Linked DNA regions of Homo sapiens: region 2 is linked to region 1. Evidence: fine-mapped expression QTL. A gene starts in region 1. The other region holds a variant in brackets. All regions are shown on one strand. Distances are from middle to middle.

Evidence for each region. PIP is the estimated chance that this variant, and not a neighbour inherited with it, causes the effect. A credible set is the group of variants that fine-mapping cannot tell apart.
Region 2: its variant is the best candidate, but not a certain one, in a credible set for the expression of ARV1 in lymphoblastoid cells (GEUVADIS, PIP 0.85).

Annotation. Positions count from the first base shown.
Region 1 is chr1:230,977,416-230,980,436 of GRCh38, reverse strand. ARV1 (ARV1 fatty acid homeostasis modulator) reads right to left here and starts at 1,343. Exons shown (of 6, transcript NM_022786.3): 1 at 1,158-1,343. The coding sequence starts at 1,331. It overlaps TTC13 (tetratricopeptide repeat domain 13), which reads left to right and starts at 1,576. Exons shown (of 23, transcript NM_024525.5): 1 at 1,576-1,877. The coding sequence starts at 1,607. RefSeq lists an enhancer at 1,112-1,411 and silencers at 1,692-1,951, 1,972-2,261.
Region 2 is chr1:230,298,288-230,301,045 of GRCh38, reverse strand. No RefSeq gene overlaps it. Among named protein-coding and RNA genes, the nearest start is that of PGBD5, 130 kb to the left of the region's middle. The variant A/T (reference allele first, on the strand shown) is at 1,308.

The DNA.
Region 1 (3,021 bases):
TGAACTTGGGAGGCAGAGGTTTTAGTGAGCTGAGAGTGCCCCACTGCACTCCAGCCTGGGTGACAGAGGGAAACTCTATCTCAAAAAGAAAGAAAGAAAGAAAAAAAAAACCGAAATAAGATTGCCAGAAATCATGAAAGGCCTATATGAGGTTAATCGTCACAAATTTGTTTTTCCCCAGCAACGTACTGCTGCATGGGTACAGGGACAAGACCAGGCAATATGTTGGATTTAACAAGGGTTGACATTTTGACAAAAGAGGGAAAGTACTTGAGAGAGGAACAGGAAATTGAGGTTGTATGCATCAGAACGTTATGTGGTTGGCAGATTATACAGGTATACACTCAGTTTGTCAATTCTCTTGTATATTACTACAGACCATAATTTACTAAAGAGATTAGAAAATCACAAGATCTGAAATGGGACAAAAATGTACTGTCTATTCTGTGACAGGTTCTTTGCTAATTAATACCCCCAAAGAACCTCCAACTTTGTAGACTCTTTAAACATAAGATTATTCTCTCTGCCGTAAAATAAAGAAGGGAAAGAGTAGCAGGAGACTCCATAGGGCCTTATAAGCCAGTTCAGGGATTCGGGCCTTAACTCTGAGATGGAAAATCATCAGAAAGTTCAAGGTATTCTACGAACACCTTGAAATGAGAATTTTTACTTCCTCACTTTTGGGTTTTGTACCACCAACGTCTAGCATAGTGCTTTGTACACCGTAGACATCCAATAACGACAATTGATGAAACCTTTAAAAAGCATCGTAGGTGAATTCAACATGGGTTGTGGAGGGTAAGGATGGTACCATCTCTCTGTCAAAGGGAGAAGAGCTAGAAGGAAGTAGCTTTGGCATGAACCAAAATGTCAACCTAATTGATCTTTAAATTTCTCTGCAAAATGCCCACATCTACCTCTGTCTGTCGGTCCGGTCCGTTCGCCGGCTTAGGTCATATCACCCAAATATGCCCCAGTATGAGAAAAGCGCTGTCGGGTAGCTGAGTTCTCTATCAGTACAGATATTCATGCAAAGATCCCGGGCGGGAATGTCAACTACCGAACTAAAGACTGTATCAGAGGACCCTGCTCCTCGCGGTCCCCAAATCCCGCCGCGCCATTTTCTTCTCAAGGGCACCCCACACCTGACAACTCACACAGATGGTTATCTTCAGCACACCGTGGTTATAGTCTCGGTACAACTCTTTGGCCTCCTGGTTGCATTCGATGCACCTGTACTGGCAGGAGGCCGAGGCAGCAGTAGGAGTCGCTGCCACCCCATCCACGTTCCCCTTCCCCTGCTGCAGGCCGCTCCGCCCGCCGTTGCCCATTTCCACTCAACTGCAGTCCAGAACTTCCGATTCTGTGGAGGGTAAGACGTCAGACGCCAGACCGGAAGACTTGCGCCGCGCGGGCTTATTGGGATTCGTAGTCCCGGCACCGGCAAGGCGGCCCCGGGCTGGCCGAGCTGGGACTACCATTCCCAGCACACAATGCTTCTCCCCTTGTCCCGCCCCCTTGCCACGGTCCACCTGCCCGCCGTAGGTTAGAGGCGGGGAGGCCTGAGAGCCGGGCAAGGGCTGTCGCGCATGCGCCTTGAGGGAAGATGGCACCTGCCGGCTGCTGCTGCTGCTGCTGCTTCTGGGGCGGCGCTGTGGCCGCCGCGGGCGCCGCCCGGCGTGTCCTGCTGCTGCTGCTGCTGGGGGTCCTGTCCGCCGGGCTGCGGCCAGGCGCCCTGGCCACCGAGCACTACTCGCCGCTCTCCCTGCTCAAGCAGGAGCTGCAGCACCGGCAGCAGCAGGAGGCCCCGGCGGGCGGCGGCGGCTGCAGCCCGCAGTCCGGGGACTGGGGGGACCAGTACTCTGCCGAGTGCGGCGGTGAGTGGGCGGCGGCGGGCGTCCGAGTCGGCCGGGGCGGCGGGGCAGCGGGGCTGGGGTCCCGGGCCGGGGTACGGGTCGCCCGGGCCTCACGCCTCCGGCTGCGGCGCGCGATCCGCGGGAGCCGGCTCGGCCAGGGGTCCTGGCGGGCAGCTTCCCGCCGCTGCCACCCACGCCGCCGCGCGCCCTCCTGCAGCCGCCTTTGGGCAGGGCGGCGAGTCGAGAAATGAGCTGACAGCATGCTCCTGGGGCCAGGGCGGCCTCTCTCCTGAGTCTGAAGCAACTGTTGGAAGGGTGGCGGAGGAGATGGCAGGTGGCCCGGGGCAGCCCTGTTCCCGCCGCCGGCCTCCCGAGGATGCCGAAGGGGCGAGGGAGGGGCGGGCGGACGAGCAACCAGCCCGGCGGCTTGCGGAGCCCGCCCCCGGAGGGAGACGCCTGGCACATCTTAGGCCTGGAAATCAGGCTTCCTGACCTCCCGGGTTAATGTCTCGTATACAACAGTTCCTAAAAATTGGATCCCTGGAATGGAAAAAAAGAGCAAGCCCATCTTATCTGCTCGTTGACATCTTGCTTCCAGTTGTTTAAGATCAACCTGCGATCTGTCAGGTGTCTCCCAGAGGGAAAAAAGGCCCCTGCAGGCCTTGAGCCTGTGTGTCAGTGCCGTGTGTGTATTGGAGCTACGCCAGCTCATTCATTAAGAATGGGCGCTATTGGCTTCAGTTTAATAAATCATAGCAGATGCCTCTGGGACAAAATACGTGTGTACATTTTTTTGTTTTGAAGTTCTGTCGTGGGTCTTTTTACCCATCAATCTCCTCCCTTTCTCTTTCCCCCTTCTCTATGTGAGTTCCCTTATGGCTTGCTTTGGGAAGGACCGGGGTCTACCGAACCCACTGGGAGATGGTTGCTTTTAAGACTTGGCAGTGGTTTTCTTCGGCATTGTGTACCTGGGAAAACAATACCTTTTTTTTTTAGTTGAGATGAGACGTCAAGATTAGCACAATCTGATTTCCTTTTAGTACAGTCTGACTTCCTTGAGGAAGTGTCACTCACTGAGAGGTTTGTGACTTTTTTATTTTGCGGTAGGCCTTAGCTGGTAACGGCGTAAGTAACACGGCCAGCCTTGCACGGTGGAGAAAGAATG
Region 2 (2,758 bases), 680 kb after region 1:
TATGCCCAGCCGGACGCATCCTTGCTAGGCATTGAGTTGACAGTGCAGCCGCCCCGGAAAAGCTGGGGTCTCGTGCGCTGCGGTACGGGCATCTTCCAGCAAGAAGGGTGAGGAGGTCCCCAAGGTCTTTCCAGCACCCCTGGGAGAGACGGGAGTCTGTGAATAAAGCCTTGGGCGCAGCTGAACGAAGGACTTTTTCTCTCAGCACAACTAATGTGAGAACACTGTCACCTGCTTCCATCTCTGGGGAATGCATTTTCTGAACAGGTGCTGGCCCCGGCCCTCCCCTCCACACCACCTCTGCTTCAAATGGGAAATCTAAACCTCTCAAGGCCCAGAGGCTGTTTGTTTCTCTCTTATTTCTAAGGCATCCACCCATGAGTGCTAGAGAAACCTACCTTTCCTGCTGTTGGAGCCTTCTAGGACCTCCCTGTCTCAAAAACTATGACCAGCACCGTGCTCATGATCAGCGGGCTGGTGCGCAGTGGTGGGGATGGCCTTAAACCCCGACTGCCCAGGTAACACCCTCATTTCAGTAATGGCCCATCATGATGGCAAGCCTTAATGGGAGGTGTGGTGGGCAGAACGAGGAGCCCCGACCCCGAAACAAAGAGGCTCACCTCCTAATCCCCAGGACCTAAGCCTATGTTACTTTTCACAGCAAACAGGAATTCAGGTAGCAGAGGAGTTCAGGTTGCAATCAGCTGTCTGTGAGGCAGGGAGAGGACCCTGGAATATCCTGTGGGTGCAGTGTCATCACAAGGGTCCTTGTGAGTGAGAACCTTTCCCAGCTGTGTTTACAGCGGAGACACGGCTGTGAAGAACGCAGGAGGTGCAACGTTGCTGGCTTTGATGATGGATGGGGGGATGTAAGCCAAGGGGCATGGACACCTCTAAAAGCTGGGCACAGTGTGAAGTGGAATCCTCCCTCAGAGCCTCCAGAAAGGACTGCAGCCCTACAGACACCTTTACTTTCGCCCAGGGAGGCCGTGTCAGACTTCTGACCTCCAGAGCTGTAAGGTACTACATTTGTGTTGTTGCAGCCACCAAGTTGGAGGTCATTTGTTACAGCAGCAACAAGAAATCAATATGGAGGTGATTTCAGGCCCCGGAGGGATTCTGAGGGCAGTGGGCACATTCAGGAGTTTCAAGTCAATACAGTGGTGACAGGTGCCCAGCACCTTACTTCCTCGGGGCGAATTTGCCGAAGAGCGGAGAGAGCAGGTTTCAATGCAAAGAGGAAGAACCAGGAAACAGTCACATCAGAGCATCTGCTTTTGTCCTTGCCAAATGCACAGGCACAGATC[A/T]GCTTGGAGAACTCCCTTTTGTGTTTCTGGTTCAAGGAACGGAGCCCTCATTTCTCCCTGTGCTCGTGAGGAACAGGAAGTCAAATGAAAGTTTAAAAGGATGACGCGGCTGGAAAAATCATTGTAATCGTGAGTACTGTCTCAGGGGCAGCCTTTAGACTTTGCCCAGTTTATCTGTCACCAAACAAAGGATCATAACAGGGACAGGTCCATTGTGATCTGTCTGCTGGGAAGAGCCTCACAGCCAGGGTGGAGACACAGAAAGAAAGGACAGTTGGGATGCACATGGAAGGCAGACCCTCCCTCTGGGTGAACGGCCTGGCACAGGGCCACTGTAGGAAGATCTGGCACCTCTGGGCCCTTTTTCTGCCTCTTCCCTCCCTCAGGCTGACCCTGCATTTAAAGGAGTGGAGGCAGGGCCTGGTTGTCAAACTGACAGGCCACATACCCAGAGGGAGGAAGTCGCTCTCCAGTGGAGAGACGATCTCTGGCCGTGGAGTCAGTACTTGTGAATTTCCACCAAGCTCTGTTATTGACGATGATCTTGAGCAATCGTGGGTTCCCCTTGAGCCCTGGGTTCTTTATCTTTTTTTTTTTAATTATTATTATACTTTAAGTTTTAGGGTACATGTGCACAATGTGCAGGTTAGTTACATATGTATACATGTGCCATGCTGGGGTGCTGCACCCATTAACTCGTCATTTAGCATTAGGTATATCTCCTAATGCTATCCCTCCCCGCTCCCCCCACCCCACAACAGTCCCCAGAGTGTGATGTTCCCCTTCCTGTGTCCATGTGTTCTCACTGTTCAATTCCCACCTATGAGTGAGAACATGTGGTGTTTGGTTTTTTGTCCTTGAGATAGTTTACTGAGAATGTTGATTTCCAATTTCATCCATGTCCCTACAAAGGACGTGAACTCATCGTTTTTTATGGCTGCATAGTATTCCATGGTGTATATGTGCAACATTTTCTTAATCCAGTCTATCATTGTTGGACATTTGGGTTGGTTCCAAGTCTTTGCTATTGTGAGTAGTGCCGCAATAAACATACGTGTGCATGTGTCTTTATAGCAGCATGATTTATAGTCCTTTGGATATATACCCAGTAATGGGATGGCTGGGTCAAATGGTATTTCTAGTTCTAGATCCCTGAGGAATCGCCACACTGACTTCCACAATGGTTGAACTCGTTTACAGTCCCACCAACAGTGTAAAAGTGTTCCTATTTCTCCACATCCTCTCCAGCACCTGTTGTTTCCTGACTTTTTAATGATTGCTATTCTAACTGGTGTGAGATGGTATCTCATTGTGGTTTTGATTTGCATTTCTCTGATGGCCAGTGATGATGAGCATTTTTTCATGTGTCTTTTGGCTTCATAAATGTCTTCTTTTGAGAAGTGTCTGTTCATATCCTTCACCCACTTTTTGATGGGGTTGTTTGTTTTTTC